Linked DNA regions of Homo sapiens. The protein of the gene in region 1 purifies or fractionates together with the protein of each later gene. This does not show direct contact. Each region holds a gene or a part of one and is shown on either strand. Other genes may lie near its edges.

Evidence for each region. Proteins that work in one complex are often made in the same cells at the same time.
Region 2: the proteins of SSU72 (region 1) and CPSF3 purify together in Homo sapiens (affinity purification with mass spectrometry; one large-scale study listed by BioGRID and IntAct). This does not show direct contact.
Region 3: the proteins of SSU72 (region 1) and TIPRL fractionate together in Homo sapiens (co-fractionation; one large-scale study listed by BioGRID). This does not show direct contact.
Region 4: the proteins of SSU72 (region 1) and CSTF3 purify together in Homo sapiens (affinity purification with mass spectrometry; one large-scale study listed by BioGRID and IntAct). This does not show direct contact.

The regions. Positions count from the first base shown.
Region 1 is NC_000001.11:1,561,364-1,564,863, reverse strand, and holds part of SSU72 (RNA polymerase II subunit A C-terminal domain phosphatase SSU72), read left to right. Parts: coding exon 1-91; intron 92-3,500. UniProt on the Homo sapiens protein: Protein phosphatase that catalyzes the dephosphorylation of the C-terminal domain of RNA polymerase II. Plays a role in RNA processing and termination. Plays a role in pre-mRNA polyadenylation via its interaction with SYMPK.
Region 2 is NC_000002.12:9,444,154-9,447,653, reverse strand, and holds part of CPSF3 (cleavage and polyadenylation specificity factor subunit 3), read right to left. Parts: intron 1-3,500. UniProt on the Homo sapiens protein: Component of the cleavage and polyadenylation specificity factor (CPSF) complex that plays a key role in pre-mRNA 3'-end formation, recognizing the AAUAAA signal sequence and interacting with poly(A) polymerase and other factors to bring about cleavage and poly(A) addition.
Region 3 is NC_000001.11:168,195,962-168,199,285, forward strand, and holds part of TIPRL (TIP41-like protein), read left to right. Parts: intron 1-585; coding exon 586-681; intron 682-2,957; coding exon 2,958-3,020; intron 3,021-3,324. UniProt on the Homo sapiens protein: May be a allosteric regulator of serine/threonine-protein phosphatase 2A (PP2A). Isoform 1 inhibits catalytic activity of the PP2A(D) core complex in vitro. The PP2A(C):TIPRL complex does not show phosphatase activity.
Region 4 is NC_000011.10:33,084,084-33,086,282, forward strand, and holds the end of CSTF3 (cleavage stimulation factor subunit 3), read right to left. Parts: intron 1,907-2,199; coding exon 1,812-1,906; intron 1,691-1,811; coding exon 1,630-1,690; intron 1,207-1,629; coding exon 1,004-1,206; 3' UTR 501-1,003; downstream 1-500. UniProt on the Homo sapiens protein: One of the multiple factors required for polyadenylation and 3'-end cleavage of mammalian pre-mRNAs.

The DNA.
Region 1 (3,500 bases):
CAGGACCAGCTCCCGACAAGCCCAATGTTTATGATTTCAAAACCACATATGACCAGATGTACAATGATCTTCTTAGGAAAGACAAAGAACTGTATCCCAGCGGGTTGCCCTTTAAAAACCCCCCGTGTGGTCCTCCCTGGAAGGTGTTACGTGTGGCTCGGGCACAGGAGGCGTGTCACCCTGTGCAGTGCACACACTGGCTCCTCTGTCTTTGCGAGAGCTTGGTTTCTATTCCTGGTGCACGTCGGATCGTCCACGGGTTAGTTCCAGTGCCACCCATGGCAGTAGGCGTGGTGAGGCGCACAGACACGGTGTGGGGTTCACCCTGACGTGGTTCAGCAGAGGGTCGTGACATAGCGTAGACCAGGGATGCTTAGGTGAGGAGGTGGAACCCACAAAATCCCATTGCTTTTCACACTGCAGGGCTGCCCCGTTATTTCCTTTGCAGGTTGGTGTGCGTGCGTGTGTGCGTGCGTGCCTGATACACATGGAGCCGGGCTGCTTCACACATCTGGTGAGGTCGTTAGAAGGTCAGATAAAGAAGAGGGCGGAGCTTGCTAACCAAGCTGTTAGAAGAAATAATGGGAGAGAACATTCCTTCATTTCAGGAGGACACAGAGCAGGCTAGGTCTGCCGCGAAGACTCCTATAGAGAGAAGAGTATTCTTAAACTAGATTCTGATGGACGCAACACCAGTTGCATAATGGTTATGACAATCAGTGCCCGGGTTTTTGACCAGGCATTTCATGGTCACCCCCACGCTAATGGAAAGTTTCTGGATCTTATTTTGTTATAGTGAGTGATTTGTAGTTTTCAGAACGGAGGCCAGGCCAAACGTATTCCAAATGAAAAGAGAATAGGTGTCAAATGCTAAACCTTTTATCTTCGTGTTGGCACTGTTGCCATCCCCGCCCTCTCCCGACATCCCCGCCCTTGACCAGCATCTCTGGCCTTGCCCAGCATTGTCTATGTATTGGCACTCTTGCCATCCCCGCCCTTTCCCAGCAGAGTCTCACTGTGTCACCCCGGCTGGAGTGCAGTGGCGAGATCTTGGCTCACTGCAGACTCACTGCAACATCCACCTCCCGGGTTCCAGTGATTCTCCTGCTTCAGCCTCCTGGGTAGCTGGGATTACAGGCACGCGCCACCACACCTGGCTAATTTTTGTATTTTTAGTAGTCACAGGGTTTCACCATGTTGGCCAGGCTGGTCTTAAACTCCTGACTTCAGGTGATCCACCCTCCTCGTCCTCCCAAAGTGCTGGGATTACAGGCGTGAGCCACCATGCTCAGCCCTACTCTTGTATTTTTTTTTTTTTTTTTTTTTGAGATGGAGTCAGAGTCTCACCCTGTTGCCCAAGGTGGAGTGTAGCGGCTTGATCTCAGCTCACTGCAACCTCCCCCTCCCAAGTTCAAGCGATTCTCTGCCTCAGCCTCCCGAATAGCTGGGATTACAGGCATCCGCTGTCATGCCTGGCTAATTTTTGTATTTTTAGTAGAGACGGGGGTTTCACCATCTTGACCAAACTGGTCTTGAACTCTTGACCTCGTGATCCAGCTGCCTCGGCCTCTCAGAGTGTTGGGATTACAGGCGTGAGCCACCATGCCTGGCCTCTTGGAATATTTAATAAGCTAAAAAATTCTTATACACAGGTAGATTAATTAGGTAGCCAGGAGTGGCCCCTGAAAGTATGTCTGGCAAAACCTAGAACTGCATCCTAGCCATCACTGTACCTTCTGCCCTCCCTGCTGTCTCCTCTGCCAGTTACAGTTAAAAGGTTGTGGGTGAGGACGCTGGGCAGAGTCCCAGGCGTCTGCTGTCAGCTCCCCAGCCCGGCCTGCCTGCCGAGCCATCTGGGCGTCCCACGGTGGAGAGTGTGGTGCTTGTGACGCGGTGGTGCTGGGAGCCATCCTGGTGGCAGATGTGGGCTCTCACTGCAAGTCAGTGTAAGTCCCCAGGGACTGTCAGCAGCACGTCCTGCTGCCCCTCTCTCTGCAGAAGCCCTGGTAACCTGCGTTTGGAAAAATCTCTAAGGATTTCTGAGGAGCTGTCAGGCCATGTCCTTGTCCACCCTGTGTGGGGCACGGCTTCGACATGGCTCTGCTCCCGTCGTGGGCTGAGAAGGAGCAGGTGGGGCTGTGCCTTGGAAAGGAGGCCCTCCCGACATGCCTTTGTGCGAGGTCCCTGTCCATGCTGTCTCCATCCCGGAGCCTTACGGCGATGGGTGGCCACAGAGCCTATTCCAAGAGTCTGGTTTAGGGCTGGGTCTTCCCATCTTCACCTCTGAGTCTTAGGCGATGCGTGACCACGCAGCCCCTTCCAGGAGTCTGGTTTAGGGCTGGGTCTTCCCATCTTCACCTCTGAGTCTTAGGCGGTGCATGACCACGCAGCCCCTTCCCGGAGTCTGGTTTAGGGCTGCGTGCTCAAGAGTCTGGTTTGGGGCTGGGTCTTCCCATCGCCCTGGAGGAGGCTTTTGTCTCATCTCATGATTCACATTAAACTCTGTGCCATGAAGCTTAGCCTGACATCCTGTTTTTGACAATTACTCTTCAGTTAGCACTGTTTATTTTTAAGTTCTTGTATATTCAGTAAGAGAAAGAAAAGCAGAGAGTGACGCACATCCTCACACTCCCTTGATTGGTGTAAGCTCAGCCCCTTCATGTCAGCCCACTGTGACCTCCTGGGTTCCAGACCTGGGAAGTACTTGCCACGTTCTGCAAGGACTGAGTCCAGCTTCAGCAGTCTCATCCGGAAGGACTTGGTATAGGCAGAGGATGAGCCTGTCTCTGGTCATTCTAAAAGAAGGAGCTGAGCCCAGTGTCCCAGAATTCGGAAGCTCCTCCTTTACAGAGGGACTGTAGGGGTTGGTGATCTCCCAGGAAGCATCGGCCCAGAAGAACCCCGCGTGCGTGTGTGTGCTCTTGGTGTGTGGTGGGGGGAAGGAGTGGCAGCAGGGGTGGCGCTGGGACACTGTCAGCCACGGGCTCTGCTTTGGGGACCTCGTGTGGGAAAGGCATTGCCTGTGGTGGCCCCTCAGGAGGCTCTAGGAGGAGCGTGCCTTCATTACCTTATTTCACTCGGGGGGCGTCTTTGCCCCCTAGGTGGGGGCAGAAGGTGCAGAATGGGAAGCCTGCCACTTAGCTAAAGCTCTTGCACATGATGCCCTTGGCCTGGAGAGGAGTGAAGTCCCCAGGCAGTTCCCTGTGGACACTGGCACGATGCCGGGTGGGGCCTCAGGGGTGTTGAGATGTGCAGGTCGGGAGGACCCCGATAACGTTTCCTGGTTAGTGATGGGTGCAGGGGGGCCGCGGGAAGTGACTGTTACAAGTGAGAGCCCGAAAGCAAATCTGCCCCACAGCAGCCGGTGCGTTGGCAGAAGTCATCGCCGTAAACTGCAGTGGAAGCAAGACGGGGTTCAAGATGCGGCCCAAAGATAAGACGCAGCACTTGGTCGAGTGTTCACAGCGTCAAGACAAAGGACGGGCCGGCGCGGTGACTCA
Region 2 (3,500 bases), on another chromosome or scaffold:
ATAGGTACACGCCACTATGCCTGGCTAATTTTTTGTATTTTTAGTAGAGACGGGGTTTTACCATGTTGGTCAGGCTGGTCTCGAACTCTTGACACCCACCTTGGCCTCCCAAAGTGCTGGGATTACAGGCTTGAGCCACTGTGCCTGGCCTACCTCATATATTGATATATTTTTGGAGACAGGGTCTCACTCTGTTGCGCAGGCTGGAGTCCAGTGATGTGATCATGGCTCACTGCAGCCTCAACCTCCAGGGATCAAGCAATCCTCCTGCCTCAGCCTCCCACGTAGCTGGGACTACAGGCACACGCCACCATGCCCGGCTAATATTTGTATTTTTTGTAGAGACACGGTCTCACATATTGCCCAAGGTGGTCTTGAACTCCTGGGCTCAAGTGATCTGCCCATCTTGGCCTCCCAAAATGCTAGGATTATAGGCGTGAGCCACTGTACCTATCCTAATAAAATATTTCAGAACCAAATGGAACATTTTATTACTTTATATATTTCTTTATTTAAAGAGAGTCTTGCTCTGTTGCCCAGGTTGGAGTGCAGTGGCATAATCTTGGCTCACCGTGGCCTCAATCTCCCAGGCTTATACAATCCTCCCACCTTAGCCACCCAGGTAGCTGGGACTACAGGCATGAGCCACCATGCTTGGCTAGTTTTATTTTATTCTTGTAGAGACAAGGTCTCACTATGTTGTCTAGGCTGGTCTCAAACTTCTGGGCAGTCTTTCCACCTCAGCCTTGCAGAGTGGTACGATTACAGGCATGAGCCACTGTGCTCAGCCCCAAATGGAATATTTTAGAGGGTATTTACAACAACAGCATTAGCTACCAGTCCCTTTCCATTCACTTTTGTAACTTCTATCTTACAAGACAGATTGTTCTTTTTTTTTTGAGACAGTCTTACTCTGCCACCCAGGCTGGAGTGCAGTGTCGTGATCTTGGCTCACTGCAGCCTCTGCCTCGAGGGTTCAAGGGATTCTCATGCCTCAGCCTCCAAGTAGCTGGGATACAGGTGTGAACCACCATGCCTACCTAATTTTTATACTTTTTTTTTTTTTTTTTTTTGAGACCGAGTCTCGCTCCGTCGCCCAGGCTAGAGTCTAGTGGCGTGATCTCGGCTCACTGCAAGCTCCGCCTCCCAGGTTCACGCCATTCTCCTGCCTCGGCCTCCCGAGTAGCTGGGACTACAGGCACCTGCCACCACACCCGTCTAATTTTTTTGTATTTTTAGTAGAGACGGGGTTTCACCGTGTTAGCCAGGATGGTCTCCATCTCCTGACCTCGTGATCTGCTCGCCTTGGCCTCCCAAAATGCTGGGATTACAGGCATGAGCCACCGTGCCCTGCCTAATTTTTATACTTTTAGTAGAGATGGGGTTTCACTATGTTGGCCAGGCTGGTCTCGAACTCCTGGCCTCAAGTGATCCACCCACATCGGCCTCCCAAAGTGCTGGGACTGCAGCCCGGCCAAGATAGATTGTTCTTAGCCTCTCACATGTGGTAGATGGCTTGTGGCTGGGCATAGCCAGCACCAGCACGTGGCAGGGGCTTACTGCTTGCTGGGGAAGGGCCTGGGCCTGGCTGCCTGAACAGAATCCTGGTGCTGCTGCTTATTTAAGCTGTGTAACCTTGACCAAGTGATTTCACACCTCAGTTGTCTCATCTGCAGAACAGCTGTCGGTCATGAAGATTAAGCAAGTCAGTTCATATAAAACACATATACAGTGTCCGGCACATGGTAAATAATCAATGTTAGCTAGTATTCATTACTACCACCAACACTACTAGTATTGCAATTTTATCCTGCAGCTATACTTTTGCTGGAGCTGGTTATCACAAGAAAATGAGCATGAAGTTCAACCCAGGAACTTAAACTGTCAGCAGAAGTAGAACCAGGAGAGTGACAGGATGAAATGGGGCTGAGGATGAGGTGGTGACACCACACAAAAGAGCAATTCGGCTTTTCCTCCCTGGCTTGGAAATCTGGGGGAGTGTTCATGCACACAGACAATAAGAAACACCTGGGAGGAGCCTACTCTGTGACTAAACCCTACACACTGTGATGCTATAGACAGGAGAGTGATTTTTCTTGACCAAATAATCTGCTCATTAAGGGCCAGTGGCAAATACCTGTGAGGCCTATCATGCTAGAAAAAACTCAAAAACGAACAAAAGACTGCATGAAAAGGTGCTCAACATCATTAGTCATTAGAGAAATGAAAATAAAAACCACAACGAGATACCACTTCACATTTGCTGTAAAGTGACACAACCCGAGTGTCCACCCACAGGTGAATGGATAAACAACATGTGGTCTACATATAACGGACCATGACTTCGGCATGAAGTGCTGATACATGCCACAACATGATGAACCTTGAAAACATCATAGGCATTATGATTCCTCTTATATGAAATACCTAGAATAGTCAAATTCATAGAAACAGAAAGTAGATTTGAGATTACCAGGGTTGGCGGAAGGGAATGGGGAGTTACTGTGTAACGGTACAGAGTTTCTGCTTGGAGTGATGAAAAGCTGTGAAAATAGACAGTGGTGATGGTTGTACAACACTGTGAATATAATTAATGCCACTGGTTTGTACACTTAAAAATGGTTAAAACTGCAAATTTTATGTTAGATATTTTACCACAGTAAAACGTATTTAAAAAACAACAAGCAAGGCCAGGTGCAGTGGCTCATGCCTGTAATCCTAGCACTTTGGGAGGCCGAGGCGGGCAGATCACCTGAGGTCAGGAGTTTGAGAACAGCCTGGCCAACATGGTGAAAACCTGTCTCTACTACAAATACAAAAATTAGCTGGGCGTGGTGGCACGTGCCTGTAATCCCAGCTACCCGGAAGGCTGAGGCAGGAGAATTGCTTTAACCCAGGAGGCAGAAGCTGCAGTGAGCTGAGATTGGCGCCACTGCACTCCAGCCTAGGCAACAGAGCAAGACTTCATCCAAACAAACAAACAAACAAACAAACCAAAAAACACCCCAAACAACAAGCAAACAAACAAAACTAACAAAAGGCCATTTCTCCTGCTTTCCAATACATTTGGAAAGGGCACGTCATCTATTTTCTATGGACACATGCTTCATTAGTGTTCTTCTAATTAAAAATACACACTTTTTTCAGCTTACCCCTCCTTTCCAATTCCATCAAAATATCTAACTTATTTTTAATAAGTTACACGATACTTAAAAATATAAGTAAGTCGGCCGGGTGCAGTGGCTCGCGCCTGTAATCCCAGCACTTTGGGAGGCCGAGGCGGGTGTATCATGAAGTCAGGAGTTCAAGACCAGCCCGGCCAAGACGGTGAAACCCCATCTCTACTAAAAATACAAAAATTAGCCGGGTGTGGTGGTGGGCACCTGTAATCCCAGTTACTCAGGAGGCTGAAGCAGAGAGCTGCTTGAACCCGGGAGGCGGAGTTGCAGTCAGCCTGGGTGACAGAGCAAGACTCCGCCTCAAAAAAAAAAAAAATATAT
Region 3 (3,324 bases), about 170 Mb from region 1:
CTGATTCTGCCTATCATTAGTAGTTATACTTGGAAAGCAGAGGAATTTGTAGATGTGCCACAGATGAAAGATGTTAAGAATGTGTTATAGTGTTCTGATAAACCAGGTCTTTAGCAATATGTAATAGTGCCTACAGGTTGCACTGAATTAGAGCATTCTGTGTAAGGTCTGTTGCTTTGTTTTATGTAAAGTGAATAGGTGAGTAGTGACAAAGAACTAGGTTGTTCTTTCATTTTGGTTTTATTGGTGTTGACATTTACTATCAGTACCTGCCATTTTTTGAAATAAACATTATAATTTTTACATTACTTGGGTATGTTTTTAAGTCTTTTAAACCTCAATATCTCCTCACCTAGAAAAAATATTTTAGGAAACCGAAACTATGATGTTAAATAGTTTGCACAAGGTTTTGAGGCTAGTTGGAGCTAGGACAAAGAGCTTCTAGTTGAGAGATTTTTATAAACTGTGAATTCAGCCTTATTCCAGGGTTTTTTTGTTTTTTGTTTTCAAATTTTTTCTTTCAGCAAAGTAATAAAATGTTTAATTTTTATTAAAATATTAATGTACCTTTTTTTTTTTTTCCAGAGAGTAATGCCTTCTAGCTTTTTCCTGCTGTTGCGGTTTTTCTTGAGAATTGATGGGGTGCTTATCAGAATGAATGACACGAGACTTTACCATGAGGTATTTATTGTTGTTTAATGAATATACTAATTGATACTGGGCTTGTTTGTGTTGTTTAATTGTCAATCTGAGAATTTGAAATTAAACAATCTATATTATATGGCAGTCTTTCTAACTGTTAAGTCTGAGTGTTTCACATTCACTGTTGACTGCAGGCTATCATCAAAACATTACATTTCCTTTTACAAAGGTTCTGGTGACTCAAAATGTTTTCTAAAAGACACTCCCTAATTGGGGAGGGGTCTTTTGAGACAATTTTGTATGTACTTAATCCATGTTTAAGAAAACTGTCCTTTAACTCTTACCTTTGTTTACAGTATATGTTGTTTATGTAATGTCCTGATGTACATTAATATACAGGAAGTACATTAATATATTAATCAGGCCAAGGCCGGGCGCCGTAGCTCACGCCTGTAATCCCGGCACTTTGGGAGGCCGAGGTGGGTAGATCACCTGAGATCAGGAGTTCGAGACCAGCCTGGCCAACATGGTGAAACCCTGTCTCTACTAAAAATACAAAAAATTAGCCAGGCATGGTGGCACGGACTTGTAGTCCTAGCTGCTACTTGGGAGGCTGAGGTGGGAGGATTGCTTGAGCTGGTGAAGGTTGAGGCTGCAGTGACAGAGCAAGACCCTGTCTCAAAGAAAAAAAAAAAAAAGAAACATACCTAAGTTATACAGTTAGTAGGTGGCAGAATTGGAATTTGAACCTAGTAGGATAGGATTGGATTGATGCTTTCTAAACCCTTCACTTAGGGATTTTTTCTTGAAATAACATGGTTATAGTGATAGACCTTTTTTCTTTTAAAAGTGGTGGCAAAGTACTAAACATAAGCTATATTTTTGTTCCCCAGAAAGAGAAATCTAAATTTTATTTTTATTTATTTATTTGAGATGGATGGAGTCTTGCTCTGTTGCCCAGGCTGGAATGCAGTGGCGCGATCTTGGCTCACTGCAACCTCTGCTTCCTGAGTTCAAGCAATTCTCATGTCTCAGCCTCCCTAGTAGCTGGGATTACAGGCGCCCACCACCACACCTGGCAATTTTGTTGTTGTTGTTTTTAATGGAGTGATGGGGTTTCACCATGTTGGCCAGGCCGGTCTTGAACTCCTGACCTCAAGTGATCCAATTGCCTCGGCCTCCCAAAGTGCTGGGATTATAGGCGTGAGCCACACCGCTCCTGGCCTAAATGTTAAAAATACTGTTTTAATTAAACAATATTGAATTTTAGGAATTTATCCTAAAAAGATTCTTTTATATAATAATCTACTAATATTAATTGGGCAATTACTCAGAGTTATACGTACATGAATATTCACAGTAGTATTGTTTATAATAGCAGAAAGGAAGGAAAGTAGGAACTTAATGCCCATTAAATGGCCATTAATTAAATTGTTTATATCCATATGGTATAAAATATATAATTATTAAAATTGGTTGCAGAGATTGATATTTAAGTAATTTTGAAAGATATTCATTTCAGTGTTGAACTTTCAAAAGCAAGTATGAATCTACTTACATAAGATTCTCTGTAGAGATTTCTAAGTATTAAAGATAGTGTTACCTATAAGCTGTGATCACTGATGATTTATACTTTTATATTATTTGATTTTTTTCCTACAGTGACTATTAATCTGTTTTTATTAATACAAGAGAGTGAAACCTTAAAGGCATATAATTTTGTGGCTTTTCTTTTATTGAAAAGTGTTTCAAGAAGTAAATTATAATAAGTTGCTGTTCTAAAACCTAACCAAAAATCTTAAATGGGAAAAATTGAAGTACAAAAAAGGTGATTTTAAGTAAGCTATTTGGTAAGAGCTTTATGGAATGGGAAAGAATAAAAATTTTAAAGCATGTTTTGCAACATAAAAGTAGCACAATTACGTAGGTAAATGATAAGATAGCTTAAGGGAAAGATGTTTCAAACTTGAAGTAATTTTAAAATCTCTTGCATATTTCATTTATACAAATTCATTATATACATTATTCATTTATATACATATTCTTTCAAAGTAAAATCTTTGCTATGTTTCTCTTACATGGTAATTATAAAATCTGTTTACATATGTGTATCATCATTATAATGTATAGAAATTGGAAATAATAATCCAATTTGAGTTAAATAGGAGTTATCTCAGTGTAGAACAAGATGTTCTCTTTAGACTGCATGCTGTTTTGACAACCTATCCTAAAATGTAGGCAGTCTGTTTTTAATACAAAGGATTTTGTAAATCAGTATAATTAAATTTATTGCAACTGTTTATTTTTAAATACAGGCTGACAAGACCTACATGTTACGAGAATATACGTCACGAGAAAGCAAAATTTCTAGTTTGATGGCAAGTACTTAAATTTCAGTTTTTAGAAGTTAATTTTAATGTTTCATTTTAATTTAAGTAGCATATACCCCTGACCCCAACCACCCAAGTTTACATCCCTAAACCCATTCATTCACCTAATGGGGCTCTATAGGATAAATTCTATGGGAGCATAACTTTTCTGACCTTACCTCAAATACAAGAACATTTAGAGCTGCTAGGTACTTAAGCCTCATCTAATCTAATTTTCACATTTTGTTCTAGAGAAATTGAAACCCAGAGGTGTGACTTACTCTGAGTCACATAGCTGGCTGGTGATGGATGT
Region 4 (2,199 bases), on another chromosome or scaffold:
CGGTGCCAACATGATGCACAAAGAAAATGCTTAGTGGAGTTTTGTGGAATTTGTACTCTTGTATTAGGGATGGTGAACTGGTAAGTATGATGCAAATATTCTGAAATCTGAACAAATCCAAAATCCTGAACACTTCTGGTCCCAAGTATTTTAGATAAGAGATACTCTATGTGAGAACAAGACAGCAGGTGGTTAAAGGAATTTCCACACTTAGGTTGCTTTCAAGAGAGACAAAAGTATTAACAGGATCTTAATCTGCCTCAGATTTACTGGGGAGCAAATGCATTCATATTTGAGGATTTCTAAAATGTTTAATTTGCCTCTTAAAAATGTTTTTAGTTAGCACCAAAAAAGACAGACCAGGAAAGAGTATGTGATTAATACATTCAGTAAATACAAGATGACTTTTCCTTGTCCTGACATTTATTTTTAAATGGTATTGGATAAATAACATAAGTAGTTATTGTAAATAAAATCTGAAAGAAGCAGAGGAAGCATGATGTTTCTGAATCCTTTTATTTTTTAAAGGACTTTTAAAATTTGAAACTACAAAACGGATTTCATACATTCTGCCATAAATAAAAACAAACAATAAGGCAGGACTCTACATAAGCAAACCAAGAACAATTGTTTTCAGAAAATGTGATAAAATGCTTTACAATCATAAGCCATCCAGTTTTTAAAATAAAACTGTTGAAAAACTCACAAATCTTCAAGCGGCACATACAAGACACCCTTGAAGAGGGAACAAAATGTGGTTCTGCCACTTTGTACTGTTCTCACATTTTTGAAAACCTAATTTTGCTTAGAGCATAGGTCTGTTCCGTATTCTAAAATTCACACAGGTTGGTTTGTTTTTTCTCAAGAACCATGTGATAGAGGCACCAATGACAATACAACTTTGTTTCCAAGAACCTTGTAACAAAGCGTTGTCTCTTTTAAACATACCACTTGAGGCAAAAGGAATCCTGGACAGGAGTTTTCTGCAGAGGCGTTTAAAACCCTACCGAATCCGCTTCTGCTGCCGTGCTCTGTAAATGTCATGAACAGGGGGGACAACGGCTCCCTTTTCTTCATCTTCATCTGAATCCTCGTTGGGCCTTTTGACGGCCTTGGTGAGTACTGCATTACTTTCCACGGGGCCGTTGCCTTCTACAGCTAGCTCTGGGGCCCCACCAGTAATGATCCTCACAGCTTCCTCAACAGCTATTAAAACAAAACAACAAAACGTAAAAACATATTCCACTATGAAAGGGTATGTATGTTCAACTGTGGATACTTTATTTCATAGCCTACTATTTTAGCAAAACATGGGATAGTACTACTGATACTAAATAATTAAAGAAAAAGACAAAAGCTGCTGTTAAAACTAATAATTTTCATAAGCCAAGCCTGATAGTGCATGTTCACATGAATAGAAAAGATAAAGTTTTATGACATTTTACTTAGTGGAATTCAATGTGAATAAGCCTTTCTCTGCCAAAGAGGGTTTGGGTAACTCCTGGGTTTCACTGCACTTCAAATTGGCTGGCTGGTTTCGAAAACTTCAGTGGCAGAGAATAATAATCTCTACTGCCTATGAGACAACAACGTGGAATGACACTCTGAAATGGAGCTTCTGTTACTTACTATTTGGTATCTTGCATCTTCGGAAAATTTCCATCAGTTCATCCACTTGTACAAAAGGACCCTATTTTTGACATGAATAAATTTTAATCCCAGTAATCTGACAAGTTAAAGTAGTAGTAACTTTATACACAATTACTATGACCCACAGAGCCAGTATCTACCATGAAAATAAGTGAACAAACCTGGAAACAGATAGGAGGAGGGAGAAGTTTCATTAAAACAACAGCTGCAGGAGGGACTGGGAACACTCCACCAGGTACAGGGTGTAAACCTGGAGCTGTGAGAAAAAGAAAAGTATGAATCAAGTGGAATGGAAGAATTTCTACACAGAGCTAAAATCAAGTGACTTGCACATAAAGATCTTCCATGTCTGCTGCTTTGTTCTGGACACTGAAAATACTTCTAGGGCTTTACCAAACCAAAGTGGGTGAGACAGCAGTCTCAATGCCGTGGCCACTGGGAGGCAGAGAAGTAGACAAGTGACTTTGTGTAAGACAACCAGGGACTGAACTAAAGTCAGTTTTTGTCAAAGAGTGTTTCTGAGTTACACAAGTCATTTGTTTAGCAATC